4 linked regions of the Homo sapiens genome follow. The protein of the gene in region 1 purifies or fractionates together with the protein of each later gene. This does not show direct contact. Each region holds a gene or a part of one and is shown on either strand. Other genes may lie near its edges.

Region 1 (7,678 bases):
CATGCCTGTAATCCCAGCACTTTGGGAGGCCGAGGCGGGTGAATCATGAGGTTAGGAGTTCGAGACAAGCCTGGCCAACATGGTGAAAGCCTGTCTCTACTAAAAATACAAAAAATTAGCTGGGCGTAGTGGTGGGCGCCTGTAATTCCAGCTACTTGGGAGGCTGAGGCAGGAGAATCACTTGAACCCAGGAGGCGGAGATTGCAGTGAGCCGAGATCGTGCCACTGCACTCCAGCCTGGGTGACAGAGTGAGACTCTGTCTCAAAAAAAAAAAAAAAAAAAAAAATTAGCTGGGCATGCTGGCGCGCACCTGCAGTCCCAGCTACTCGGGAGGCTGAGGCAGGAGAATCGCTTGAACCCGGGAGGCGGAGGTTGCAGTGAGCTGAGATCATGCCACTGCACTCCAGCCTGGCGACAGAGCGAGACTCCATCTCAAAAAAAAAAAGAATGTATTCTTTTTAAACTAAATTTATTTATATATATTTTTTGAGACGGGGTTTCACTCTGTCATCCAAGCTGGAGTACAGTGCTGTGCTCATGGTTTACTGCAACCTCAACCTGCCTGGCTCAAGTGATCCTCCCACTTCAGCCTCTTGAGTAGCTGGGACCACATGTATGCATCACTACACCTGGCTAATTTTTTAATTTTTTGTAGAGACAGGCTCTCCCTGTATTGCCCAGGCTGATCTTGAACACCTGGGTTCAAGTGTTCCTTCTGCCTTGGCTTCCCAAAGTGCTGGGTTTATAGGCATGAGCTACCATACCCAGCCAAGAATATATTCTCCCAGAATGTCAGAGGAGTTGAGGCAGGATGTGTGGCTAAGAGAGTAGATATAAAGTCATTGCTGTGGCTATTAATTCTCCATTCCCAAGTCACCCACTGTGATATAAGGAAAAGCATTAGATAAATTCTTGGCATCCTGTCCTAGTCCTGTCACTAGCTAGTTGTGAGATGTCTCAATTTATTAACTCACTTTAAGCCTCAGATTCTTCATCTGAAAATTGGGTTGTGGTTGACGGAGTGAGAAAATGTTTGGATTAGATCAGTTGTTCTGAATCTTAACTGTACATTGAAATCACACGGGGAGCTTTAAAAACTACCAATCCCTGGGTCTCACTCTCAGAGATTTTGATACAATTAGTCTGGAATGGTACCTGGCCACTGAGGTTTTTGCAGCTCCTTGGGGACAGTCTAATGTGCAGCCAAGGTTTACAACCAGTGAATTTGATGAAAACGTGAACATTTGTTGCTACTTTGTTAAGTGTGGAAACAGAAAGTCAGAGAGGCTTAAGCAATACTGCCCTTGGACCCAGGCACTGGGGGTCCTGTTGTGGGCCCTGATTTAGAAGGGCCTTGCTCCGGCTCTTCTTGGGCTGTGCCCTTCCCTCAGGTGAGGAGAATCATCAGAGGTGGGAGGAGTCTGCAAGGTCAAGAGGACATGCCCACACCGAGACCCTCTGTTTAAAACCCTCTTTGGGGCTGGGTGTGGTGGCTCTCGCCTGTAATTCCAGCACTTTGGGAGGCCAAGGTGGGCAGATCACTTGAGGCCAGGAGTTCAAGACCAGCCTGGCCAACGTAGTGAAACCCTGTCTCCACTAAAAATACAAAAATCAGCCGGATATGGTGGTGCGCGCATATAATCCCAGCTATTTGAGAGGCCGAGGCAAGGGAATTGCTTGGGCCTGGGAGGCAGAGGTTGCAGTGAGCCAGGATTGTGCCACTACACTCCAGCCTGGGTGACAGAGTGAGACTACGTCTCAAAAAAACAAAAAGAATAAACCCTCTTTGGGTACCTAAGACCTGAAGTTCTCTACGCAAAGAGCCCTGAGCCTCCCACCAGGGCCTACATTGGCCTCTTCCCCAAGTCCATACCCCAGGGACAAACTATGCTGCAAGTATGCACATCCCTAAGCCCAAGGGGTGGCTGATTTTAAGAGGATGTAAATGGAAAGTGGACTGCAGGTGGGAGTGTCAACATAGGTGTATACAGTCATTCTTTGAGGGCTGCTGAAGCCAAAGGATAAGGATGGCACAGGGGTAGGGGGTTAAATGCCTGCCCCTACTGGTTTGCCAAATGGGATGACAACATGGGCTTCCAATGTGAGCCAGAAAAAGCCCTCAGGGAACGACATATGGATATGCTGGGTTAGAAGTCATACTGGTGTGTGTTGAAGTGGTAAGAATCAGTGGGCATGCAAGGTGGGCCTGGGGTAAGTCCACTATGATGGTTCTACTGACAACCAGAAATGGCTTTCACTTGGGATAGGGTGGGTTGGAGGTGGTGATGGAGGTGCTAAGCTAGGTGTTCTTGAATAGTAGTTTCCAAATTAAGGACAGGTGCTGATCTGTAATAAAATTTTCTTGGTGTACTAAAAAGATAAGAAAGGCCAAGAGCAGCAGTGGTCATGCCTGTAATCCCAGTGCTTTGGAAGACCTAGGCAGGAAGATCACTTGAGGCAAGTTCAAAACCAGCCTGGGCAACATAGCAAGACTCCCTGCCACCCACGACCCCCGCTTCTACTAGATATATATATATATATATATATATATATATATATTTTTTTTTTTTTTTTTTTTTTTTTTTTTTTTGAGATGGAGTCTTACTCTGTCTCCCAGGCTAGAGTGCACTGGCATAATCTAGGCTCACTGCAACCTCCGCCTCCCGGGTTCAAGCAATTCTCTGCCTTAGCCTCCTGAGTAGCTGGGATTACAGGCGCCCGCCATCACACCCAGTTAATTTTTTGTATTTTTAGTAGAGATGGGGTTTCACTATCTGGGCCAGGCTGGTCTTGAACTCCTGACCTCGTGATCCACCCGCCTCAGCCTCCCAAAGTGCTGGGATTACAGGCATAAGCCATTGCGCCGGGCCACAAATTTTTTTTTAAAGAATTAGCTGGGCATGGTGGCACCTGTAGTGGCACACCTAGCATGGTGGCATGCTAGGACCTGTAGTCCTAGCTACTCAGGAGGCTGAGGCAGAAGGATCACTTGAACCTGGGAGGTTAAGGCTGCAGTGAGCTGTGATCGGGTCACTGCACTCCAGCCTGGAGTGAGACCCTGTCTCAAAAACAAACAAAAAACCAAACTTGGATAACTGACAGAGTTTAGGATAGAATTACATGGAAAAACCAACAAAACAAGACAATTATTAACTCCAGAAAAAACTAAAAGTTGTGTGGGAAAGGAAAAGTAATCATAGTTTGGTACATAACTTGGCTGTGACTACCGTTTACATGATTATAATAGCATATATACTGAAGATTAATCAAACAGAATATAACTATCTTGGGAAGATGGAGAGATTAAAAAAAAAGGTTGGGGGTGAATATGGGGTGAAAGTGATGGAGAAAAAGAGCTGAAGTCTCCTCTGGTGTCTCAGCACTCCACCCAAGGTAGAGCCTCTGGATGGAAGAAGGAATCTCCCACCTCTCCACCACACTCCCCCAGGATTTACCTTCAGCATCAGGTAGCTAGGGGCAAGATGAGAAATGCTGATATGCTGGTCTCTGACTGGGAGCTGTGGGAAGAGAGAGGTTCTGAGTTGCAGCAGTCTGGAGTGGAGTCTCTTGCTGAACAAAGGGAGAGGTTTGGTTTAAATACCACAGACTGACTCTCACATTCTGATCCAAGAGTTTTCATAGATTTTTTGGAACAGATGTTTCTTCATTTGCTGTTTGCCCTTAGGACCATTTCAAAGGCTTTAAATGGTTAATGGTTGTTTGTTGTTTTAAATAATTTTCAGTTTCACTAGGGGTGAATCCCGAGCTCTTCATGCCGTCCTGCTGTTAGTCTCTCTTGGTATTATTCTTCACCTTTCCTGTGAGTTTAAAATTATCTCAAGAAAAGTTAAAGCTCTTTAAGAATCACAATAAAGTAGTTATTAGGAATAAATAAAAACGTAGAGGGGCGCGGTGGCTCACGCCTGTGATCCCAGCACTTTGGGAGGCCGAGGCGGGCAAGGATCACTTGAGGCCAGCAGTTGGAGACCAGCCTTGCCAACATGGTGAAACCCCATCTCTACTAAAAATACAAAAAAAAAAAAAAATTAGTCGGGCATGGTGGCTTGCACCTGTGGTCCCCGCTACTTGGGAGGCTGAGGGCTGGATGGTTTGAGAGCGGGAAATCCAGGCTGCAGTGAGCTGTGATGGCGCCACTGCCTTCTAGCCTGGGCGACAGCGCGAGACCCTGTCTCAAGAAGGAAAACAAAAAAAAACAAACAAAAACATACACACAAAAAACCACAAAGTGTGTTCACGTTTGCTATGACTCCCAGACAACAATTGTAAACACTCGCGCCGGGCGTGGTGGCTCACGCCTGTAATCCCAGCACTTTGGGAGGCCGAGGCGGGCGGATCACGAGGTCAAGAGTTCGAGACCATTCTGGCCAACAGTGAAACCCCGTCTCTACTAAACACAAAAATTAGGCGGGCGTGCTGGCGCGTGCCTGTAGTCCCAGCTACTCGGGAGGCTGAGGCAAGAGAATCGCTTGAACTAGGAAGGCGGAGGTTGCAGTGAGCTGAAATTGCGCCACTGCACTCCAGCCTGGGCCACAGAGCGAGACTCTGTCTCAAAAAAGAAGGAAAGAAAGAAAGAAAAAAAAAAACACTCGCAGTGTTTACTCCTAACGCGTGGAACTTGTGTCGACATCCACCCCCGGTTACTGCATACTCAGTCACACAAGCCATAGCAGGAAACAGCGAGCTTGCAGCCTCACCGACGAGTCTCAACTAAAAGGGACTCCCGGAGCTAGGGGTGGGGACTCGGCCTCACACAGTGAGTGCCGGCTATTGGACTTTTGTCCAGTGACAGCTGAGACAACAAGGACCACGGGAGGAGGTGTAGGAGAGAAGCGCCGCGAACAGCGATCGCCCAGCACCAAGTCCGCTTCCAGGCTTTCGGTTTCTTTGCCTCCATCTTGGGTGCGCCTTCCCGGCGTCTAGGGGAGCGAAGGCTGAGGTGGCAGCGGCAGGAGAGTCCGGCCGCGACAGGACGGTACGTGCCCCGCGCTCGACCCCCGCGCTGGCGGCGCCGGAGCTGTCCCAGACCCCAAGCCCCGACGCCCGGCCCTGAGTCAGCATTGCAGCAGGCCCTGCGCCGCCGCGCCCCGCGTCCCACCCCGCGCCGCTCCTCACAGCCCTGCGCTCCGGGAAACTGCAGGTGGCCGGCAGTGGCCAGGGGATGGCGGGGGCGCTTCTGGAACCTGACTCAGTTTTGTAGGTTCCTTATCTCGGTTGTTTACCGCGGGCTTTGCGGAATGCCCCCGCTTCCGTTTCCGCCCGGCTCCGAACCCCCGAACCCCTTCTACCCGCAACTCCGCCCCGGATTCCCAGAAAGGGGCGACCTGGGCCACAGCGGTACAAGCTGCACCCCGATGGACCTGAGAGACCGGAAGTAACCCTTGGCCAACTCTGGCCGCCCCCTGCAGCCGCAGCCCCAGAGGCCCACCCGCGAGCTTCAGTGGCGGGCCCTCAGCGTCGTGTAAACTTTGCTTAAAATGATCTTGAGAGTTCAATTCTTGGGGTGAACTGTTGAGAAGATCTGGCATTTTTCCTTTCGAAAGTTGTTGGGAACGTGGACTTTCCCAACAATTGTGTATGCGCTCGATCTCACTCAGTGGGAGCCGCCGCCCTGGAGGGAATTTCACAATAGCCTGGTCAGGGCGGTTATTTTCCAGAGCAGTTTAATGTCTATTTTGCCCAAGTGCAAGGAAAGCTTGCCTTGGGAAAGCTGGGAATGCTTGGCTAATGAAAAGTTTTTAGAGCCTTTTAAAATGAACCTGTTTCTGCCACTTTTCCACCGCCTCAAAACGACTGGGAAATGTAAACTGGCTTCAAGATGTTCTTGCTTGAGGGTGTCTGGATTTGGACAGAAGGCCATGTTCTTTTAATATTAACAGTGGCACGCAGTAGAACAAAGGCCACTGAAATTCAGAATCAGTTTTTGGCTCCACGGGCAGGAAGTAAATTCAAGGACGCCAGAGGTCTTGCGAATATTTTAATTGGTTGACATTTGAAATTTGTTCTTAAGCAATGAGGGGTGAAACCAGTAGGGGGATAGCGTATAGCATAAGTAAAGCTTTTTGGACATCAACAAACTGCGATAATCTACAACAGACAGCGGGCTCTGGAAGGTTTGACCTGCTTTAGAGAGAGATTTCCGATAAGAGGAACGGAGTTTTTGGCACTTTTCGGTTTGGTGATTCCCCTAAATAACCTTACAAAAGTTTCGTTGAACAAAAAACCTGGCTGGAGCTCCAAGATCTTTTTTTTTTTTTTTTTTTTTTGAGACAGCATTTCACTCTTGTTGCCCAGGCTGGAATGCAATGGCACTATCTCTGCTCACCGCAACCTCCGCCTGTCGGGTTCAAGCGATTCTCGTGCCTCAGCCTCTCAAGTAGCTGAGATTACAGGCATGCACCACCATGCCCGGCTAGTTTTGTATTTTTAATAGAGACGGGGTTTCTCCATGTTGGTCAGTCTGGTCTCGAACTCCTGACCTTAGGTGATCCGCCCGCCTCGGCATCCCAAAGTGCTGGGATTACAGGCGTGAGCCACCATGCCCGGCCCAACTCCAAGATCTAAACAAAAAAGACTGGGTTGAAAGGGAGTTTTTAATGTTTACTGTTTGCTTTACATCCATTTTCTTGTTTTGTTAATACTTGCTTTACTTAAGCTTTTGGGTCAAATGTCCTCGTTAAAATGGCTTTCTCTAGCGACTTTATGTTTTACGTTTCTGTTTGTAACTGACATTTGACCTTCTTTTAACACGGTATTACTTGCTTCCTTATACCGGTTTCCAAGGTGAAGCCATTTGCAGGGTCGCTGGGTTTCCCCCTCCCCCCGAAAGTCTTGCGCGACCCGGGGTGGGCCGGATAGTGTGCAGTTTTTTGAGCCTTGGGCTGGGGACCTCCAGGAAGCTGAAGCGGAAATTGCCTAGGCCCCTGGGGCATTGGAGGTCCTACCGCAGCTCCTAGTAGGTGGTGGGGGCGCAGCGGCTGTCCCCACTCAGTCCTGGTGGGGTCGCACGTAACGGTCCTGAGCTATGCATAAGCCGTTTGACCACGCATGGAGAATTTTACCACCCAGAGACACGCGAGTGGCCCTGTGCAAGTTTCAACTGCGCGGGGGGCGGGGAATTCCGCAGACAGGATTCTAGAATTTATGTCTTGTGTGGTAACATTTCAGCCGGTGGGTGGCGGGGATTAGGCGTGAAGCGGTTCAGCAGGCAGAGGTTCTCGGACGCCCTCCGGCGAAGCCACCTGTTGATGCTTTTGACTTTCTGTCCTTGTTCCTCGTCCCATCTGGAGCATTTCCAATTCTGGTTTTGCGGAGCAGCAGGTCTGAGCTTGTCCGGCGAGGGTGGGAGTTGGTCCCGGCGGAGATCCAGTGGGAAGAGCCGGCGGCTGCCCGGGCGTGAGTAGACCGAGAATCCTGCCCGATCCCCGCCCCTGGGCTGGTGTCGCCCTGGGCTCCTGGGACGTCGGGGCACTGTCCCCCGATACTGGCAGAAAAGGATTGAGTCCTCGCTTTTGGCCCTAGGTCTCCTTGAGCCTCCAGAGGACTCACAACACTCCGGGGCATGTTGCTCTTTCAAATACCAGGAATGGACTCTGGGGAATGGGGCACCCTTGAAGTCTGATTATTTCTTCCCTGTAGAGCCCCAGGGGCTAATTAAAC
Region 2 (7,021 bases), on another chromosome or scaffold:
ATTTTCCCCACCACAGATTACTGATACAGGTAATAGTTACTCAGTTTCCAACTGAGATTAGTATATTTGTCATGAAAATATAGAAGGTTGTACAAAATAGGAGTTGAAAGTCTTAATTCTGCTTTCTTCATATTGGAGCTTAATATTGGACCCTAGAAGATAGTCTCTAATGAGAATTGCTTTGCTTATTCCATGATAATATATCACACCAGGTTAAAAATTTGCGTAGAGCTGGCATTGTGCAAAGACAAGGACTTTGGGGTCAAGACGGGATTTGAATCTTTTTCTGCTCTCAATAGTGTGATGTTGGGCAAATATTTTCATCTGTAAAATAAGAATATTAATATCTACATTTCTAGGATTATTGTGAAGAGTAGAAATATTGTTTATTAATGACCTAGTTCAGAGCCTGTGTCTTTGTGTGCACGCTAATTGGTGGCTACATTTTAGTAGTTCTTATTTATATTATGTTTCTGAGTTTAAATAAAATTATTTCAAAATATATGATATAATCATAGATAAATAACAAATATGAGTAGAAACATGTAATTTTGTATAAGTTAAAGGCAATTGAAGAGGAGAGCAATCATTCATTCCTAATAAGAAAATAAACTAGCAATATTAAAGTGTGTCATGAGATACACTTATCACAAGAGGCCATGAACTAACAGGAAAAGAGATCCAGATTACAGGCTTATGCCACATGTATTACCCCAGATCACCCATGTTACGTAGTTTTAGTAACCATAATCTTATGTTAATATTGGTTCATATTTTCACAATATTTGACTTAGAGTCTCAGCATTTTTCTAATATGTGAGTGGCTGGAATTAAGAACTTTACTGCCTCTGTGAAATTGGAAGAATTTTCATATTGATTTAACGTGTAGGGAGTAGTGGCACTTGATGGGGATTATTATGGGACTTAGTAATAGATGGAATATTAGATTGATTTCAGCCACTTTACTCACATGGGTAAATAGTGAATTTTAAATTTGCCTATGAATAGTATTTCATTGATTCTAAGACTAATATTTTCATTTTATAATATCTCTGAAATTACGATGTATCTCAGGTAAAATTGGAAAATACAATTTAGTCGTTCATCAAATAAAGGTGCAATGTTGTCTTAGATTTTTTGAAATGTAATAATGTATATATTACCATCTACCAAAGATGGTGTATACTACCAACTCTGTGAAACAGATGTGAGTTTGAACAGAAGCAATAAAAATCAACATGAGATTAGAAAACTATCACTAGCTGAGGGGTATAGATCCCTGAGAACTTTATAGCACTGTTCTTTGATTTCTTGGTAACCTACAAGATTTTTCATCGTAAATTTTCTTTTGATTTCAGAGAATGGTTCTTTCTTTTGTCACATGAAGTGTTGAACCCAATGTATTGCCTGTTTGAATATGCAGGGAAGGATAACTACTGCTTGCAGATAAACCCCGCTTCTTACATCAATCCAGATCACCTGAAATATTTTCGTTTTATTGGCAGATTTATTGCCATGGTAAGTGCAGGTCAAGAATTATGTTTACTTTGCTTATTCAGCAATACTAAATTTTCTCTTAGGTGCCATAACAGATCATATGAGAGAAAGGGAAGTGGTTTTTTGTTTTGTTTTGTTTTTTATTTTTGAGACAGAGTCTTGCTCTGTCACCCAGGCTGGAGTACAGTGACACGATCTTGGCTCACTGCAACCTCTGCTTCCTGGACTCAGTCAGTTCTCCCGCCTCAGCCTCCCAAGTAGCTAGGATTACAGGTGTGCGCCACCATGCCTGGCTAATTTTTGTATTTTTAGTAGAGAAGGGGTTTTGCTATGTTGGCCAGGCTGGTCTTGAACTCCTGACCTCAGGTAATCCACCTGCCTCAGCCTTCCAAAGTGCTGGGATTACAGGTATAAGTCACCGTGCCCAGCCAGGGAAGTGTTTTTTTGAGACAAAGTTTCACTTTTGTTGCCCAGGCTAGAGTGCAATGGCGTGATCTCGGCCCACCACAACCTCTGCCTCCCAGGTTCGAGCAATTCTCCTGCCTCAGCCTCCCGAGTAGCTGGGATTACAAACAAGCATGTGCCACCATGTCCGGCTAATTTTTGTGTTTTTAGTAGAGATGGGGTTTCTCCATGTTGGTCAGTCTGGTCTCGAACTCCTGACCTCAGGTGATCCACCCACCTCGGCCTCCCAGATTGCTGGGATTACAGGCGTGAGCCACCATGCCTGACCCAGGGAAGTGTTTTTAAATGAAGAGTACATCTAATATATTGAAATAAAATGATTATTGTACAGTTATTTTAAGCGGTCTTGTTTCCTTTTTTCATAGGCTCTGTTCCATGGGAAATTCATAGACACGGGTTTTTCTTTACCATTCTATAAGCGTATCTTGAACAAACCAGTTGGACTCAAGGATTTAGAATCTATTGATCCAGAATTTTACAATTCTCTCATCTGGGTTAAGTAAGTTTCTTTTTCCATGTAATTTATTAAAATATAGTTATATGCATTCCGTGTAGTATTGATAACTTATCCAAACTGTAGGCACATAATTGGTTTATTGTATTTAAATGATCTATATATCAAACCTGTCTTTTTATTCAATATGATAAATTTTACAAAAATACACCCAAGATCTTCGGCAATAATATGACCTTAGAACAGAATCTTATTTCTTCTTATTTTGATGTTATAGCTTAATATTAATTATTTAAGAACATGGGCCTTTCGTTAAAAACTTATAAATTATGATTGAATTGGTGGATATAACAAATAGTGCTAATTTCATTTGTGCAGGGAAAACAATATTGAGGAATGTGATTTGGAAATGTACTTCTCCGTTGACAAAGAAATTCTAGGTGAAATTAAGAGTCATGATCTGAAACCTAATGGTGGCAATATTCTTGTAACAGAAGAAAATAAAGAGGAATACATCAGGTGAGAGTGCTCCTTTTCACATTTCACTTTTTGTTTGACTACAGCACATTGATAATTGCTTACTAATACTAATGGAGAGTATCTCCAAAAATAGTATTTGTCTCTGTACTAATCAATATCCTATGTAGGCAGTCATTTTTCATTTCTAAAAAGTTTTTTTTTAAGTGTTTTTAAAAGAGTTTTAAGGATAAAAGTCATGCAGGATCACTCTTTTAAACATCAACTCTGTAATCACTATGCTGTATAACATGTCATTAAAAAGAATCTCAAATATATATGCAGATATTTTCATGGGGAATATTGTAAGGTGTATTAATCCACTTTCCTGCTGCTGATAAAGACATATCCAAGACTGGGCAATTTATAAAAAAAAGAGGTTTAATGGACTTACAGTTCCACGAGGGTGGGGAGGCCTCACCCTCATGGTGGAAGGCAAGGAGGGGCAAGTCACATCTTACATGGATGGCAGCAGGCAAAGAGAGAGCTTGTACAGGGAAAACTCCTGTTTTTAAAACCTCATCATCGGCCAGGCATGGTGGCTCATGCCTGTAATCCTAGCACTTTGGAAGGCCAAGGCAGGCAGATCACAAGGTCAGGAGATTGAGACCATCCTGGCCAACATGGTGAAACCCCATCTCTACTAAAAATACAAAAATTAGCTGGGTGTGGTGGCATGTGCCTGTAATCCCAGCTACTAGGGAGGCTGAGGCAGGAGAATGGCTTGAACCTGGGAGGCGGGGATTGCAGTGAGCCAGGATAGCACCACTGCACTCCAGCCTGGTAACAGAGCAAGACTCTGTCTCAAAACAAACAAACGAATGAACAAAACACTTCATCATATCTTGTGAGACATATTCACTGTCATGCAAACAGCAGGGGAAAGACCCACCCCCGTGATCCCATGATTCAGTTATCTCACTGATTCTCTCTTACAACACATGGGAATTATGGGAGCTACAAGGTGAGATTTGGGTGAGGACACAGAGCCAAACCATATCATTCTGCCCCTAGCCCCTCCCAAATCTCATGTCTTCACATTTCAAAACCAATCATGCCTTCTCAACAGTCCCCAAAGTCTTAACTTATTTCAGCATTAACTCAAAAGTCCACAGTCCAAAGTCTCATCTGGGACAAGGGAAGTCCCTTCCGCCTATGAGCCTGTAAAATTAAAAGCAACTTAGTTACTTCCTACATACACTCAGGGATACAGGCATTGGGTAAATACAGCCATTCAAGATGGGAGAAATTGGCCAAAACAAAGGAGCTACAGGCCCCATGCAAGTTTGAAATCCAGCAGGGCAGTCAAATCTTCAAGTTCCAAAATGATCTCTTTTGACTCCATGTCTCATATGCAAGTCACCCTGATGTAAGAGGTGGCCTCCCATGGCCTTGGGCAACACTGCCCTTGGGGCTTTGCAGGGTATAGCCCCCCACCGGCTGCTTTCATGGGCTGGCGTTGAGTGTCTATGGCTTTTCCAGTCTCATGCTGCAAGCTGTTGGTGGATCTACCATTCTGGGGTCTAGAGGACGGTTGCCCTCTTCTCACAGCTCCACTAGGCAGTGCCCCAGTAGGGACTCTGTATGGGCCTCCAACTTCACATTTCCCCTCCACACTGACCTAGCAGAGGTTCTCTGTGAGTGCCCTGCCCCTGCAAGCAGACTTTTGCCTGGGCATCTAGGCATTTCCATACGTCTTCTGAAATCTAGAGGGAGGTTCCCAAGCCTCAATTTTTGCCTTCTGTGCACCCTCAGGCTCAACAGCACGTGGAAGCTGCCAACTCCTGGGGCTTCCACCTTCTGAAGCAACAACCCGGGCTGTACCTTGGCCACTTTTAGTCATGCTGGAGCAGCTAGGAAACAGGGCACCAAGTCCCTAGAGTGCACACAGCGTGGGGACCCTGGGCCCGGCCCATGAAACCATTTTTAGCTCCTAGGCCTGCCTACAGGCTTGTGATAGGAGGGGCTTCCATGAAGACCTCTGACGTGCCCTGTAGACATTTTCCACATTGTCTTGGGGATTAACATTCGGGTCCTCATTACTTATGCAAATTTCTGTAGCCAGCTTGAATTTCTCCTCAGAAAATGAGATTTTCTTGTCTATTGCATTGTTGGGCTGCAAATTTTCCAAACTTTTATGCTCTGCTTCCCTTACAAAACTGAATGCCTTTAACAGCACGCAAGTCTCCTCTTGAATGCTTTGCTACGTAGAAATTTATTCCACCAGATACCCTAAATCATCTCTCTCAAGTACAATCGTCTCTCTCAAGTACAAATCCACCAGTCTCTAGCACAGGGGCAAAATGCTGCCAGTCTCTTTGCTAAAACATACAAAGAGTCACCTTTGCTGCATTTCCCAAAAAGTTTCTCATTTCCATCTGAGAACACCTCAGCCTGGACTTTATTGTCCATATTGCTGTCAGCATTTTGGTCAAAGCCATTCAACAAGTCTATAGGAAGTTCCAAACTTTCCCACATTTTCCTGTCTTCTTCTGAGCCCTCCAAACTGTTCCAACGTCTGCCTGTTACCCAGTTCTAAAGTTGCATCCACATTTTCAGTTATCTTCAGCAGCACCCCACTCCTGGTAACAATTTACTGTTTTCACACTGCTGCTAAGACATACTTGAGAGTGGACAATTTACAAAAGAAAGAGGTTTAATGGACTTACAGTTCCACATGGCTGGGGAGGCCTCACAATCATGGTGGAAGGCAAGGAGGAGCAAGGCATGTCTTACATGAATGGCAGCCGGCAAAGAGAGAGCTTGTGCTGGGAAACTCCCATTTTAAAACCATCAGATCTTGTGAGACTTATTCACTATAATGAGAACAACATGAGAAAGGCCCGCCCCCATGATTCAGTTATCTCCCACTGGTTCTCTCCCATAACACATAGGAATTATGGGAGCTACAAGATGTGATTTGGGTGGGGACACAGAGCCAAACTATATCATAAGGTTGGGTAAAATTTATAACTAAAATGATGTTTTATAGTATATCCTTTCTGATTATTTCCATTGGTTCATGCTACTAGTCTCAAGAGCTAATAGTTCATTCATACCTTCTCAATAGCAATTCTTTCCAGCCAGGGTTAAATTTTGCATATTTACTTCTTAAGTTCCAGGTTCTGCATTTCTTGCCTGGTTTTTCCCTCCATAATTGAAAGTATACTATTTAACACAGTGAGCTGTCATTATTTCTTGGACAACAATCTATCCTTTTAAAAGTTTATTTTGAAATCTGCTTTTAAAATGTAGTCAATTCGTTTTTGTCAATTCTCCAGTTTTTTTGTTATGATATGTCTAGATTTTCTTATGACATATATAGCATTCCAGAGAGGTAATGTTTCGAGATTCCAAGAGATGTACTACGTTTCTCAATAGTTTTGTTGCTGGTAAGATAACATTTTAAGATAATGGGCAGCTAAAAAGGTTTTTAGTATCTACTTCAATAATGGCTTGCTTAAAATTTCAGAGTTTGGGGGGTTTTTAGTATTATTTTAAGAAGTATAATTTCCTTAGAATAAAATGCACTGATCTTAAGTGTAGAAGTTGAAATTTGACAAATATATATATCAGCCCAAATGTGAGCATTTTATGGAGAGAAGTTGTGCTAGATCACTCATTTAATTACCAATTCTGTAAACACTGTTCCATATAGCATCATGTCCATGTAAATATGACCCAAATTGTGGAACTTTTTTTTCTATTCTGGACCCCATAAGGGGCCAATGCACACCTCCCTTCTCCCAGCCCCAGAGGTAGGTAACCATTTCTGTTTAGTTCTATTTCTATAACTGTTTCTGATCTTAAACTTCCTAAAATGAAATCATAGAGTATGTACTCTTATATCTAGCTTTTAGTGTCTGATTTTTTCTTTTATTTGGTGTTTGTGAGATTCAGCCATATTGTTTATATCAGTATTTTATTCCTTTTTATTGCTGAGAAATATTCCATGCTGTGTATATCTCAAAATTTGTTTATCCATTCTCTTGGTGATAAATGTTTTGGTTGTTTCTCAGTCTGGGGCTTTTATGAGTAAAGCTGCTATAAACATTCTTGTGATATCTTTTTGTGGACATATTTTTCTTG
Region 3 (7,021 bases), on another chromosome or scaffold:
CAGGCCAGCATGTCTTTGTCACTCTGTGTCATGGCTTTGTAATAATATGGTTATGCAGTATGGCCATATAAGCTGCCTAAATTCACTGTTTTTGTATATCCTTCAACTACTCACAAGGCCTTCCTAAGATATTCAGTGCTCATAAAGTTGAATCTTTCATGTGGAAAAAAGAGGGGTGGATAGGAAAAACAAAAGAAATCACTGAACACCATGCAGAAGATGCAGAAGATTAACAGACTAAACTAGCAAACCGCAAGACTGTAAGGAGAACTGACTTGGGTCAGGAGCTAAGCTCCCAAAGTCCAGTGGACCCAACTAGAGGCCTTCCCAAACTCCACCGCACACAGCAGCACCTGCAGGTCCTAGTTGGTCTTGACAAATTTGAGGAGATGTGGCTGAGACTGAAGAAGAGATACCAAATAGGACTCCTCATAAAGTAGAAACCTTTTACTCAAAAGGGCATTTTTCAGGGCATGTTGTAGTTCCTGCCTGTTTCTTTACTGTCTGTGACCTTTTTTAAATATTATTAAACATTCTTTCACAACATCGCTTTTGCAAACTGCTAGATATATTTCAGTGTTGATGGGCATAACTGATTCTCTCCTCTGTACATGCTAAGTGTTTTACCTACTTTTGCTGTTCTATGTAATGCTACCAGGAACAGCTTTGCACATAATCTTTATCAGCATCTCTGATTTGATCCCTCAGAGTAAAGAAATACTGAGTCAAGGAATTATTCCTTTCAAAAAAATAATTTTAATTTTACATTTAATTCATGTCTATTGTGGAAAATTTGGAAAACATAGTAAAAGTGTAAAGAAGAAAGTAAAAATCAACCTATCATCAAGATACAATCCTTGTTAACATTTTGGTGTCTTTATGTCTTTTTTATCTGTACTTATATCTTTATCTATTTACATATATATATATATAAAACACACACAAATGTGAATATAATTTTTACAGATTTATTCGTCAAAAACAATTTTGAATGGCTATATAATATTCTGTTAGGAGTGTGCCGTAATTCATTTAACAATATTTTTATTTTTATTTTTTTGGACAATTAAATAGTTCTCTTTTTAAAATAGTTATTCAATTGATGATGGGCCGGCATACGTTGGGTTCTGCTAGGCTCTGGAGATGGTGCACAAGACAAGTTTCCTGCCTTCTGTGAACTTCATGAGAAATAATTCTCAATTACAGTACTGTCTTACCTATGGAAGTGTCTAATGGGAAGACTTAGGATGGCTTCCTTGACAAAATGACAGTTCTCTGACACCTAACCAGGCAAGAAGTTGGAAGAATATGGCCTAAGAGGGTGGGGCGGATGACCCTTATGGAATGGGGAAGGCTTCACAGTTCTGCCTGCTCCAGTGATGTGTAGTGAATGAAAAAGGAGGCCTAAAATCAATGTTATCTTTTATGCCCTCTGTCTCCACCCGCTCCTACCTCATTCTCACTAGGATTGGTCAGTAGGGCCCTGCTGACAGAGTGATCCCAGCTGAGAATGTTGGCATTCTCAAAGCCCAAGGAAACAACACCCGTGTGGATAAACACATGTGGGCGGCTGGGCCAACCATAGCTAGAGACATAAAGCAGGCAACAAACGTGTTTTCACAAATATATACATATGTACATATATACGCATATACAAATATATACATATACGTATATACACATAGACAAATATAGCTATATATCTACATATACAATATATGCATACACACATACAAATATGTGTATATATACACACATATACATTTTTATATCATATATTATATATTACATATATACATATACAAATATATGTATATTTATACGTATACATACATGAACGTATACTTTTTTTTTCTCATAATCCTTACCACTTCTGTGAGGTGGTCATTATTGTTTCACTTTGCAGATGAGGAAACTGAGGCATAAGTAAGTGCCCCAAGGTCACAGGTTGGTGAGTCACAGAGCTAGAGTTCACGCTCATAGTGGAGGGCCCGTGCTCTCGGAGCTATGGCTCCTGGTCTCTTACCTCACGCGTGTGCCTCACCCCACCCCTCAGTCTTCAGGCCTTCATCTAGGCAGCCCCCCGCCTCCACCCACTGCCCACGTCCCACCGATGTAGTTGTTTCCTGAGGCACTTCTCTTGTTTGGTAATGTCTTATGTCCTAGGAAAGAAGGCCCATAGGTGCTGCTGTATGAGCTTCCTCCGCTAGACAGAGCTGGCCCCAGCCTTTAGATGAGGTGTAGAAGGCTGGTTACCCGGGTCACCTGTAGCCGGCCACTGTGCAACACCATGGGCAGCCTAGGAGTTTCCAGAGTCCCCTCTCCCCAAGGTATTTCTTTTTTCATTTTTTAACTCCCTGCCCTCCAACATTTTATTATGAAAAACACCAAGTCTGAAGGTTACGTCCACCACGACTATCGTCTTAACACCGCTTGCTTCATCGTGTAATTCTCCATCTCCTTTCCCGTCATCTGTCCGTCATTGTCTGACTTTTTGATGTATTTCCAAGTACACATCAGTACACATCTCGAAATACTTCAGCATGCATACCATAGCTAGAGTTCAATATGTTTACAGGTTTGTCTTTTGATGTAAAATTTACCTGCTGTTGTTGGGAGTACATCTGCTGAGTATGGGCAGATGCGTATGCCTGCAACCCTAGCCCCCGTTGATATCCTACAACATTATCATCACCCCAGAAAGTTCCTTCATGCCCCTGCCCACTCAGCCTCACCGTGCTCACAGGCGGCCAGTGTTCTTTTTCTGACACAGATTGGTTTTGACTTCTGAACCGTCATATAAATAGAATTACATAGTATGTATGCTTTTGTATAAGGCGACTTTCACTTATCACGTTTTTGCATTTCGTTCATGCGGTTTTCATTCATGTGTATCAGTAGTTCATTTTTATTGCTGAGTAGTATCCCATCGTGTTCATACACCAGTGTGTTCACTCATTCTCTTACTGATGGGCAGCTGTTTCCAGTTTGGAGCTATTATAAATAAAGTTGCTATGAACATTTTACAAGTGTTTTCCAACATACGTTTTCATTTCTCTTGGGATTGGAATTGCTGGGTCATAGTGCAGGTGTTTGTGGTTTTATAAACAAAATAAATGCCTATGAAATTTCAATGAATATTTTATGCCCCAGAAAGAGTATTTTTCATGGTCTGTATCTGGATGTAGATATTTATTATTTTATTTTATTTTAATTTTTTTGAGACAGAGTCTCACTTTGTTGCCCAAGCTGGAGTGCAGTGAGTGGCATGCGATCTCGGCTCACTGCAACCTCCGCCTCCCAAATTTAAGCAATTCTCCTGCCTCAGCCTCCTGAGTAGCTGGGATTAGAGGCGCGTGCCACCACGCCTGGCTGATTTTTGTATTTTTAGTAGAGACGGGGTTTCACCATGTTGGCCAGGCTGGTCTTGAACTCCTGACCTCGTGATCCGCCCGCCTCAGCCTCCCAAAGTGCTGGGATTACAGACGTGAGCCACGGCGCCCAGCCGGGATGTGGGTATTTCTGGAATACAAAACATCCATAGCCCTCCTTTTACTCTCAAAGCAAAACACAGACACGCACATTCACATGCACACACCAGTGTGTCCGTGTCCTGTTGGTTTGCATGGAGTTTCTGTTTTGCCACGAAGCTTTTTGCCAGCCCTTTTCCCAAAGTGTTTGTACCATTTTATACTCCCACCAGTGATGTTTGAGAGGTCTGGTTGCTTCACATGTTTGCCAGTGTTTGGTGTATTAGTCTTTTTAGTTTTGGATATCCTGGTAGTTGTGTAGTGGTGTCTCCTTGTGGTTCTCCATGGGTTTTTATTCTATATTTCAGTTTGGGGAAAATGAATGAATGGAAGAAAAGAAGGGAGGAAGGATGAAGCAAATAGCTGTGCTTTGAGATCTGACACTGTATACTTCACAGCCCTGATGGACATTCTCCAAATTCTACTCCTTTTTCACATTTTCTTCTTAGAGTTTGCATTGTTCTTTTTATATTCTTCAGATTCCTTCTTTTGTTCATAATTACTTAAACCTATTCATTTTCTAATGCCTTTCAGTTGTTAATTTACTGAAGTTCTTTGGTGCTTACTAGTGCTGCTTGCTGTAGCTGCAGGGTCTGTCTCACAGTGAATTTTTTCTTTTGTGTTTTATAATTTTGGAAAGGGAGCTCATGTTAAATTTGTATTTGTAGGAATTCTGTCTGGCCTGGCTTGAGGTTGTTGTTTGCTTTAGCCTATAACCTCAGGATGGCATCAGCCTGTGACCACTTCCTGTGTAAAAGTTCATAGTTTAGGCGATCCTCTCAATTCAAAGTCTGTATCTATTTCAAGACAGGCCCAAGGTTATAAATTTGCACAAACTTTTTTTTTTTTTTTTTAATACCTTGTGCCCAGTCCAAGACAAATATGTTTGTTTGCCATGGGCTGCTTTTTTTCTAGTTCATCCTTTCATCAAAGGGTTGCACATTGAGCAGTGCCGTGTTAAGGGGGGATTCTTCATTCTACCTTCTTTTCTTGTATTCCTTGACCTCAGCTGGGCTTTAAACCTTGACTTCTGGATGGCGAGGTTGGCACTCCCCTGTGTGAGCTACTGCCTGCCTCCGGTGCTCTGTTTCTGTCCCTAGAGTTCTTTTCCTTTCCACGGAGTTTTGGTATGCATTTCAATGAATGTTTGTATTATGTTGTCCAACATACTTGTGTCCTTTATAGCTGGAGGGTTCTTAAAATTTTCTAATGCTCCATATTGCCAGAAATAAAAAGGCTGAGGGAATAAATATTATAGTCTTCTCTGATTCTTAAAAATATGAAAAATAGCTCATCAGATGACTGTAAGTCTATCCTCAGAAATCCAAGGCACACCAAGCATGTGGTGGAATGTTAACAAAAGTTTTTAAAAATGATCTTTTCTGCCAGGTACAATGGCTCACACCTGTAATCTCAGCACTTTGGGAGGCTGAGGTGGGAGGATCCCTTGATCTTAGGAGTTTGAGACCAGCCTGGGCAACATAGTGAGATCCCCCGGCCCCCCCATCTCTACAAATAATTAAAAAATCAGCTGGTCACGGTGGGGTGCACCTGTGGTCCCAGCTACTCAAGGAGGCTGAGGGAGGAGGATTGCCTGAGCCCAGGAGGTCGAGGCTCCAGTGAGCTATGATTGTGCCACTGCACTCCAGCCTGACTGACAAAGTGAGACCCTGTCTCCAAAGGAGAAAAAAAAAAACATATATATATATATATATATATATATAGTCTTGCCCTGAGGTTTTCTCTCTGTTTTCTTTACAGGGTACAGCTCTGCCGGGGGGGGAAAAAGTGGTACCATTTTGGGCGTTCTTGAGCTTCAGAATGCAACCAGACATGTCCTTGAATGTCATTAAGATGAAATCCAGTGACTTCCTGGAGAGTGCAGAACTGGACAGCGGAGGCTTTGGGAAGGTGTCTCTGTGTTTCCACAGAACCCAGGGACTCATGATCATGAAAACAGTGTACAAGGGGCCCAACTGCATTGAGTGAGTAGGGAGCAGGGGTGGGTGGGCTAAGTTCTGAGCGGGATGGGGACGTTGGCTGTTGTGGAGCCGTTGGCTGCTGCGGAGCCGTTGGTGGGTAGAGTGAGAGGGAGCCTGCCAAGATGTCAGGGTGACGATGGCTCTTCGGATTGTTATTGTCGCTGATGTGGACTCTGAGACTGGGTAGTGAAGGACTCTCACAGCTGGTAAGTAACAGAAGAGACATGAACAAGAAGGAAATAGAGAAAGACAAAGAGATAAGTGTGGTGGGGGGACAATGAAAAGGAAACAGGAGGATGGGTGAAGACAGACCTATTCACTCGCTTCACATTTTCAGTGAGGACCAGCCCTAAGTATAAAAATGAAAAGGCAGTTCATTCCTGAGAGGTTCTGAGAGCCTTCCCTTTAAAGCAACCAGTAGAGTGGTTTCACCTCTCTCCCTCCTTTGTCAGAGTGGTTTTGAGAGAGGCTGTTTTTTTTTTTTTTAATCGTTCTGTCCAGCACGGTCTTTTTTCAGGTTACCTTGCTGCTGTTCATGTACTTTTCATTCATTGATTCATTCATTCCTTCATTGATTTACATTTTTGGAGCATGCACTGCCAGTTACTGGGCAGGAGTACTGTGAGGAAGTGAGAAACCGCTCTGCCTTCTAACGCTTCTGGCCTGTGCCTGGAAGAGATCGGTACAGACCCAAGCATGACCCCAGCACGTGGGAGTGATGTGTTGGAGGTGTGCACCAGGCTCTTGAGGCGCTGGCTCTGCCAGCCTCAGCATAGCACCTTTCCTGCCCACAGGCACAACGAGGCCCTCTTGGAGGAGGCGAAGATGATGAACAGACTGAGACACAGCCGGGTGGTGAAGCTCCTGGGCGTCATCATAGAGGAAGGGAAGTACTCCCTGGTGATGGAGTACATGGAGAAGGGCAACCTGATGCACGTGCTGAAAGCCGAGGTAGAGAGGGCCCCTCCGCACGGGGATCCCCAGCGCTTGGGCCCTGGCTGTCTGTTATGGCTCCCCTTGGGGTGTTTGTTTGCAGCTCGTTAGCATCAAATTTGCAAATTGCTTGGTAGTTTGAATTTTCTTTTCCTTTTTTTATAGAGACAAGGTCTTGCTATGTTGCCCAGGCTGAACTCCAACACCTGGTCTCAAGTGATCCTCCCACCTCAGCCTCTCAAGTAGCTGGGATTACAGGCTGGATTTCCTGAAGTCAGTTTCTCCTTAAAACATCTATGCCTTGATTGGGCTCCGTGGGTCACTTCTGTAATCTCAGCACTTTTGGCAGGAGGATCACTTGAGCCTTGGTGCTCAAGACCAGCCTGGATAACACAGTGAAATCCCCTCTCTACAAAAAATAAAAGGTGCATGTGAACAGAGCAAGACCCTGTCTCTGAAAAAAAGAGAAAATCTTCCTTGCCTTTTACTGCCCTGAGAGTGGTCTCTTCATCCTCTCGATCCTGTGGACAGTCCTCCATAGTCTGTGTCTTAGGAATGTGATTGGCTGTTTACCAT
Region 4 (7,947 bases), on another chromosome or scaffold:
GCTCTATCGCCCAGGCTGGAGTGCAGTGGCACGATCTCGGCTCAGCGCAACCTCCGCCTCCCGGGTTCAAGTGATTCTCCTGCCTCAGCCTCCCGAGGAGCTGGAATTACAGGCATGCGCCACCATACCCGTTTTTTTTGTTTGTTTTGTTTGTGTATTTTTAGTAGAGATGGGGTTTCTCCACATTGGTCAGGCTGGTCTCAAACTACCGACCTCAGGTGATCCACCTGCCTTGGCCTCCCAAAGTGCAGGGATTACAGGCGTGAGCCACCGCGCCCAGCCAATTTTGTTTTTATTTTTATTTTTAGTAGAAACAGGGTTTCACTATGTTGACCAGGCTGGTGTCGAACTCCCGACCTCAGGTGATCCACCCACCTCAGGTGATCCACCCACCTCAGCCTCCCAAAGTGCTAGGATTACAGGCCTGAGCCATTGCACCTGGTCACAATTTTTTTGTTTTCAATAGAGACAAGGTCTTGCTCTGTTGGCCAGGCTAGAGGGCAGTGATTCAAGCACGGCTCACTGCAGCCTAAGCCTCCTAGCCTCAAGCAATCCTCCAACCTCAGTTTCCAAGTACCTGGGATTACAGGTGCACACCACTGTGCCCAGCTAATTTTATTTTATTTTATAGAGATTGGGTCTTGCTGTGTTGCCCATGCTGGTCTTGAACTCCTGGCTCAAGCGATCCTCCCGCTTCAGTCTCCTAATATGCTGGGATTATAGGCATGAGCCACTGCACCTGGCCAAATACTATATTTTTTTTATCTGCATTTGGTTGAAAAAGGTCTGCATACTTCTGTCTCCTGGGTTCAAGAGATTCTCCTGCCTCAGCCTCCCAATTAGCTGGGATTCCAGGCAGGCACCACCCCACCTGGCTTTTTTTTTTTTTTGAGATGGAGTCTCGTTCTTGTTACCTAGGCTGGAGTGCAGTGGCGTGATCTCGGCTCACTGCAACCCCCGCCTTCAGGGTTCAAGCGGTTCTCCTGCCTCAGGCTCCCGAGTAGCTGGGAATACAGGCACCCGCCACCACACCCGGCTAATTCTTGTATTTTTAGTAGAGACAGGGTTTCACCAAGTTAGCCAGGCTGGTCTCGAACTCCTGACCTCAGTTGATCTGCCCGCTTGGCCTCCCAAAGTGCTGGGATTACAGGCGTCTGAGCCACCGCACCCAGCCTGACCTGTGCAGTTCAAACCCATGTTGTTGAAGGGTCCACTGCGATCTGTCTGCTCGAGGGAGGAGATGTTAGAGTCTGGGGGTTCAGAGCACTGCCCCTGGAGCACAGTGGCCTCTGTTCACTTCTGGTTCAGCTGCCTGCAAGTTGTGTGAACTTGGGCAAGCCACTGAACTGTTCGGTGCCTTTGTTTCCCCATCTATGAAATGGGTTACTAGGGTTGTGATGGGTGTTCAAGGAGCCAATATACATGAAACGGTTGGAACTGTGACTGATACAGTGATTGCTGCTCTTACTATTGTTGTTACTGAGGGCGCCATGATGGTGGACGTGGAGACAGAAGGATACAGGTGGAGACCCAGGGATCAAAGGAGAGGGAAAGGGTTGGGTAGGGGCCACAGAAGCCAGCTGGGTGTCTTTGAGAGACACTCCCCTCCCAGGGCCTCATTAAGCCCCCACTAGGAAATAGACCATCCCCTCCATGGACCAAAATATTTTATGACTCAGGTTTTCCCAGCAAGGAGAGGAGTGGGGCGGGATACCTGGCCTGAAACGCTCCTAGAAGGGACTGTCCCACACAATACCTTCTGTCCCTGCTCCATGGGAGGGGCAGCCCTCACCTGCTGGTCCTGCTCCCACACACTGGATCTGGGGATCTGAGCCGCCTCTTCTTCAGACATCGTGCTGCAAACAGGGTCACCCTGCGGGGCAGGATTGAGTAAGGGGAGCACCTGCCCAGGCATCAGATCCTGTCAAATTGGGCTCTGTGACTTGAGCAACTCTCAAACCTCTTGGGGCCTCAGTTTCTTCATCTGCATAATGGGGCATTCTGTGGAGCTCAGACAATGCATGTCCAGAGCTCTGTACACAGAGGGTGTCCAATAATGAGCCTCTGGCAAGGTAGGGTTGCCGGAGTGACTCGAAGCATGGTCTCTGAGGTGAGAAAGACCTGGGTTCAAATGCTACCATTAATTGCGGTGTTATTTTTATTATTTTTTTAAAGACAGAATCTCTCTCGCCCAGGCTGGAGAGCAGTGGCGCCATCCCAGCTCACTGCAATTTCCGCCTCCCAGGTTCAAGTGATTCTCCTGCTTCAGCCTCCCAGTTAGCTGGGATTACCCACGTGCCACCATGCTCGGCTAATTTTTGTATTTTTAGTAGAAACCGGGTTTCGCCATGTTGCCCAGGCTGGTCTCAAACTCCTGGGCTCAAGTGATCTGCCCACCTCGGCCTCCCAAAGTGCTGGGATTACAGGCATGAGACACTGCACCTGGCCAGCTGTGTGATTTTTGGCAAGCACCTTCACCTCTCTGGGCTGCTTCCTGTTTTGTAAGATGTGGGAGGTCCCTGCTACCCCTGCGGCCCCTGCCTGGGCCCAGAACTGCCCAAGCACCCTAGACGGCTGGAGGTGGTAGCTGCTGGGTCCCAGTCCACTCACAGCTCATTTGACAGACAGGGCAACTGAGGTACGCAGCAGGTCCATGCTGGTCCCAAGGTCACGCAGCCAGCTAGAGTTACAGGGGGGGAGCTCGACCTCGGGCCTCAGACCTGCCGCCTGCGATCCCTCCGGTTGCCACCCCGCGTCCTCTGAGGCCTGGTCCTCGCCCAACTGGGTCCTGAGCTGGGGCCAACCGGGCCAAGGGTCCCAGCCACCTGCTCTGGCCGGTCATACCCGTCCCACGCCGCCGGACCTTCGCCCAACCACCCTATCTGGAGCTCCTCTCCTAAGCCCGGGGGGGCGCTCCCGGACGCCGCCCTCAGGGCACTCACCTGGGCGCGAGCGGCTTCAGACACCAGCTGTCTCCGCCGACCCCAGGCTCGAGTCTCCACACCCCCGCCGGTCCCGCCCGCCCTTCTTATAGCTGCTCGCGCAGTGGGGGCCTCCGGAACTGACCAATGGGGAGAGGCCGTGCGGGGGCGTGCCCAGGGGGCGTGGCTCCAGGCTTCCCTCGCCCTCTCCTTGAGCTGGCCCAGTGCCCTACGGTTGCCATAGTAATTCGGGAGCGCTAGATTCAAAAGATTGAGCTATTATACGTTCCCGGACCAAGTTTGGCCACCTGTCATCCTCACTGCTGTTGCCATAGAGACAGTCCATGCGATCACAGCCCCCATAGCCCTGCTGAGTGACCTTGGCCAACTCGCTGATGACTTTTCTTATTAATTATTATTATTTATCGATTTTTGAGACTGGGTCTTGCTCGGTTGCCCAGGGCTAGAGTGCAGTGGTGTGATCATAGCTCACTGCAGCCTTGCCCTCCCAGGCTGAGGTGATCCTCCCGCCTCAGTCTCCTAAGTAGCTGGGACCACAGGCACACACCACCACCCCCAGCTAACTTTTTAAACTTTTTGTAGAGACGAGATGTCCCTGTGTTGACCAGGCTTGTCTTCAACCCCTGAGCCCCAAGTGATCCTTCCACCTCAGCCTTCCAAATTGCTGGGATTACAGGTGTGAGCCATTGCACCCAGCCTCTTTTTATTTCTTAATCTGCCCCTTAACTAAGCCAGAAGCCAGGCCTTCCCTTTCCCTAGGATCCCCATTTCACAGATGAGCAAGCTGAGGCTCAGAGATCATAAAACACTTGCCCCGCATACCACAGCAAGTGAGGGATCCTATTCCTTTTTTTTCTTTTTTTTTTTTTGAGACAGAGTCTGACTCTGTCGCCCAGGCTGGAGTGCAGTGGCGCGATCTTGACACACTGCAACCTCCGCCCCCTGGGTTCAAGTGATTCTCCTGCCTCGGCCTCCGGAGTAGCTGGGATTACAGGCGCCTGCCACCACACCTAGCTAATTTTTGTATTTTTAGTAGAGACGGGGTGTCACCATATTCGTCAGGCTGGTCTTGGACTCCTGACCTCGTGATTTGCCTGCCTTGGCCTCCCAAAGTACTAGGATTACAGGCATGAGCCACCGTGCCCGGCCAGGGATCCTATTCAAACCCAGCCCTGCTGGACCTCAGAACCCTGCCTTTTCATTGCCTTGCCTGGAATGACCACAGATGTAGGCATGGTCTTTTTATTTTTATTTTTATTTTTGAGACACAGTTTCACTCTGTCGCCCAGCCTGGAGTGCAGTGGCGTGATCTTGGCTCACTGCAACCTCCGCCTCCCAGGTTCAAGTGATTCTCCTGCCTGACCCTCCCAAGTAGCTGGTATTACAGGCACGTGCCACTGTGCCTGGCTAATTTTTGTATTTTTAGTAGAGACAGGGTTTTGCCATGTTGGCCAGTCTGGTCTCGAACTCCTGACCTCCGGTGATCTGCCTGCCTCAGCCTCCCAAAGTGTTTGGATTACAGGCATGAGCCACGGCGCCAGGCTGCATGGTCATTTTTTAGGGAGCTGGGAAAACTGGACATGCCCCCAAGCCCCAGGGTCTTCCAAATCCGATTGCAGCCCCCACATGGCCAATGCTGTATCAGCAGGTGGGCCCGGGACCCTGCTCATCCCTTCAGCCCCATCCTGCCCCTGCAACCTTGCCCGGGGGCAGGTGCCCCCTTCGATGATCTCAGGTCAGCATGACAAATCGTTTGGAGACCTGGGCAATCTGGTTTAACTTAAACCTTCTCCTAGGACACAAGCCCTGGCAGAAATCCACTGGTAAAATGACACCCGGGCAACAGTCAAGGTTTTATTTCCAGTTAGGTCCCAGGATGGGGGAAGGGAGAGGAGAAGTCACAGGCCATTGATCCCAACTGTCATCCCCTAGGGAGACCATATCCCACACCCCAGGGCCTGGGCCATGCCTCTTTTCCTCCTTCACCCTGGAGTCCTGGGAAGTTGATTTGAGAAGATGCTAGGAACACAATGAAAGCCAATTCATCCGATCCAGTTTTCAAGGGTTATTTATTAAACCCCTTGGTTCTGACCCCAAGCTAAGTGGGACTCAGCATCAGACCCTGCACTCAGAGAGCCCCCTGACTTGGGGAAGACAGAGTCAGAGAAAGGCAGCCCCAGTGTGGCCAGGGCTCAGCTGGAAGGAAGGACAAGGGGCTGGGAGAACCCAGAGTTCAAGAGATCTGGGAAACAGGGAACGGCATTCCAGACGGAGGGCACACCTTGGGCATGGGTAAGGAAAGCCCATCGTGTGTTCTAGGAAGCATGGATGGATGAAACGGGGTCCCAGCCGCTATGGACAGCCCCGAGTTTCACCTGTAAAAGGCAGGATTATTTGTTTTTAATTTTAATTTTAATTTTTTTGAGACAGTCTTGCTCTGTCGCCCAGGCTAGAGTGCAGTGGCACGATCTTGGCTCACCGCAAGCTCCGCCTCCCAAGTTCACGCCATTCTCCTGCCTCAGCCTCCCGAGTTGCTGGGACTACAGGTGCCCACCACCACGCCTGGCTAATTTTTTATATTTTTAGTAGAGACAGGGTTTCACCATGTTAGCCAAGATGGTCTCGATCTCCTGACCTCGTGATCCGCCCACCTGGGCCTCCCAAAGTGCTGGGATTACAGGCGTGAGCCCCCGCACCCGGCCAAAGGCAGGATTATTTGTTAAGCGGGTTGCAGTGTTCTACCAGACCCCCCACCCTCAACCCAAGCCCCTGGTCTCACTGGGACTTGGCCACTGCCAGGAGCGTCTGGCCCTTCACGGCTTCAGGCCCAGCACAGCGCGTGTCATTCTGGGAAAACATCTTGTCTTTTTGGGCCTGAAGCCAACGATAGAGGTCGCTCAGGTTCTGGTCACAGATCCAGGGGTTGCCGGAGATGTCGAAGCCATCCCGCATGTCCCAGTTTGGCTGCCCTAGGGATGCCCAGAGCCCCTCGGGCACGCTGGCCAGTGAGTTATTGGAGAGGTCCAGCATGTCCAGCTGCCGCAGGCCCTGGAAGGCACCGGCTGCCACCCTGGCCAGCTTGTTGCCGTTCAGGAAGAGGTAGCGCAGGTCCGGCTGCGGCAAGAGGAGATCTTTTCCCAGTACTTGCAATTTGTTGCCTTCTAGATGTAGCCGTTCTAATTGCAGCGGACCCCTCAGGAGGTCAGGTGGCAAGGTCTCCAACTGGTTCTCCCCAAGGTCAAGGGTGCGCAGGAGGGTGAAGTTGGCCAGCAGCCCGGGGGGCAGTTTCCGGAGGCGGTTCCCAGACAGGTCCAGATGCCCCAGAGCTTTCAGGCCGTGTAGCCACGAGACCTCCAGGACCTCCAGCTGGTTTTCTTTCAATACCAGGGTGTCCAGGGTGGCTGAGGCCTGGAAGAGGCCCGGGGGCAGCCCGGTCAGGGCGTTTCGGGTTAGATCCAGCACCCTCAGCTGCGGCACTGGCCGCAGGAATTCGGGCGAGAGGCTTTCCAGCCCATTGCTGGAGAGGTGCAATTCTTGGAGCTTAGAGGCGCCCTGGAGGAGGTTGGCTGGCAGGTGGGTCAGGTTGAAGAATTCCACGGCCAGGTGCACGGTGTCGGCTGGCAGGTAGCCGGGGATTTCGGCAGGTGGTTGACAGGAGATGGAGCTGCCATGGTCTGAGCGGAACACCTGGCAGTCTTTGGGGCTCAGGGTGACCCCCCAGGCTGAGGCTGCCAACAGCAGCAGCAGGAACAGAGTTCTAGAAACATGGGGTTGAATGCCCCCTGGGCTGCAGGCAGTAACAGAAGATGCTTACTAAACCACAGTGAAAATACACTCAGCTAGGTGAAAATACACCAGCAAATCCGCCCACTTCTTCCCATCTCTGCGGCTACCAGCCTGGACTATGCTACCTCATCTCTCACCTGTACTAGGGCAGTTGCTTCCTCCTCCTCTTCCAGCTTCTACCCTCACCCCCGACAGCTGCCAGAAGTGGCCCCTGTTCCAGGGAGAATTATAATTCTAGGAAAGTTGAGTTTCTGAGTGTAACTCCCGCATAATATGAATACACTTCCCCATCACCAGCCTAGCCCCCATGAGCTGTTAATTATTCACAGTCCAACTTGCTAGTTTCTTCTGATCTGGCTTATTTTCTGGGTCAGTCCTTGTCTCCCTGGCTCTGTGTTTTGATGTGAACTCCTATTCATCCTTCAAAGCCCCAGCTCCAATGCCCTCTTTTCCATGAAGACTTCTCTGCTCTGGGATCCTGGTCTTTTTGTCCACTCTTGACCAATTGGGTGCTTGGAGGAAGACAGACGTTCAGGTTCATGTTTTTGAGACAGAGTCTTGCTCAGTTGCCCAGGCTGGAGGGAACTGGCATGATCACAGCTCACTGCAGCCTCTGAACATGAAAAGTGTGTCCTGCTTTGGCCAGGTCTGAGGGTGGGCATTTGGCCTTGGGAAGCGGTGGTTTACACTTAGCACCACAACCCTTGGAAGCCTGGGGCTTCCCCTCCTCCTCCAGGGCTTCCCTGGCCCGGCAGCCATCAGACATGATCTCGACAGCCTTGGTCACTGTGGCCCCAGGCCTCTAACAAGAAGCCTCCCCCGGCTCCCTGCTGCCCATGCCCACCTGGGCTTCTGTAGGGGTGTGTGTGTGTGTGCACGCGCCAGTCTTTCTGTCACAGATAAGGTTGATCTGTGCCAGCCACCAGGCCTGTATCTGCTCCCTGTGACTTCTATGGGTTAGCTGGAATGTCCTGTATCTCCGCATGGTCTGGCGTTCAAACCTGCCTAGGACAGGTAGTGTGGGGACCTACCTTTTTGGTCGCTGTCTGCTCCAAGAGGACATGGTAGCTCTGCTCTTTTGCTTCTGGGTTGTCCTGGCCTGCGGAGGTGGCCTTATACCTGCCTGGACTGGGGGCAGGGGAACCAACCCTGGGGAAGTCCCCACCCCCGTCCAGTTCCTGATAGGGGCTGAGCCTAAGCCAGGCAGGGGAAGGGGAGG

Evidence for each region.
Region 2: the proteins of CFLAR (region 1) and ITCH purify together in Homo sapiens (affinity purification with western blotting; 8 studies listed by BioGRID). This does not show direct contact.
Region 3: the proteins of CFLAR (region 1) and RIPK1 purify together in Homo sapiens (affinity purification with western blotting; 5 studies listed by BioGRID and IntAct, with this or other methods). This does not show direct contact.
Region 4: the proteins of CFLAR (region 1) and PLIN5 purify together in Homo sapiens (affinity purification with mass spectrometry; 3 studies listed by BioGRID and IntAct, with this or other methods). This does not show direct contact.

Annotation. Positions count from the first base shown.
Region 1 is NC_000002.12:201,111,488-201,119,165, forward strand, and holds the start of CFLAR (CASP8 and FADD-like apoptosis regulator), read left to right. Parts: upstream 1-4,676; 5' UTR 4,677-4,994; exon of another isoform or gene 4,995-5,197; intron 5,198-7,228; exon of another isoform or gene 7,229-7,414; intron 7,415-7,540; exon of another isoform or gene 7,541-7,678. UniProt on the Homo sapiens protein: Apoptosis regulator protein which may function as a crucial link between cell survival and cell death pathways in mammalian cells. Acts as an inhibitor of TNFRSF6 mediated apoptosis.
Region 2 is NC_000020.11:34,478,272-34,485,292, forward strand, and holds part of ITCH (E3 ubiquitin-protein ligase Itchy homolog), read left to right. Parts: intron 1-1,358; coding exon 1,359-1,518; intron 1,519-2,327; coding exon 2,328-2,461; intron 2,462-2,794; coding exon 2,795-2,935; intron 2,936-7,021. UniProt on the Homo sapiens protein: Acts as an Acts as an E3 ubiquitin-protein ligase which accepts ubiquitin from an E2 ubiquitin-conjugating enzyme in the form of a thioester and then directly transfers the ubiquitin to targeted substrates.
Region 3 is NC_000006.12:3,071,473-3,078,493, forward strand, and holds part of RIPK1 (receptor-interacting serine/threonine-protein kinase 1), read left to right. Parts: intron 1-2,166; exon of another isoform or gene 2,167-2,330; intron 2,331-5,291; coding exon of another isoform or gene 5,292-5,351; coding exon 5,352-5,515; intron 5,516-6,306; coding exon 6,307-6,463; intron 6,464-7,021. UniProt on the Homo sapiens protein: Serine-threonine kinase which is a key regulator of TNF-mediated apoptosis, necroptosis and inflammatory pathways.
Region 4 is NC_000019.10:4,532,223-4,540,169, forward strand, and holds the start of PLIN5 (perilipin-5), read right to left. Parts: upstream 3,003-7,947; 5' UTR 2,943-3,002; intron 1,874-2,942; 5' UTR 1,853-1,873; coding exon 1,793-1,852; intron 1-1,792. Other genes in the region: LRG1 (leucine-rich alpha-2-glycoprotein precursor), read right to left, coding at 5,718-6,729, 7,760-7,791. UniProt on the Homo sapiens protein: Lipid droplet-associated protein that maintains the balance between lipogenesis and lipolysis and also regulates fatty acid oxidation in oxidative tissues.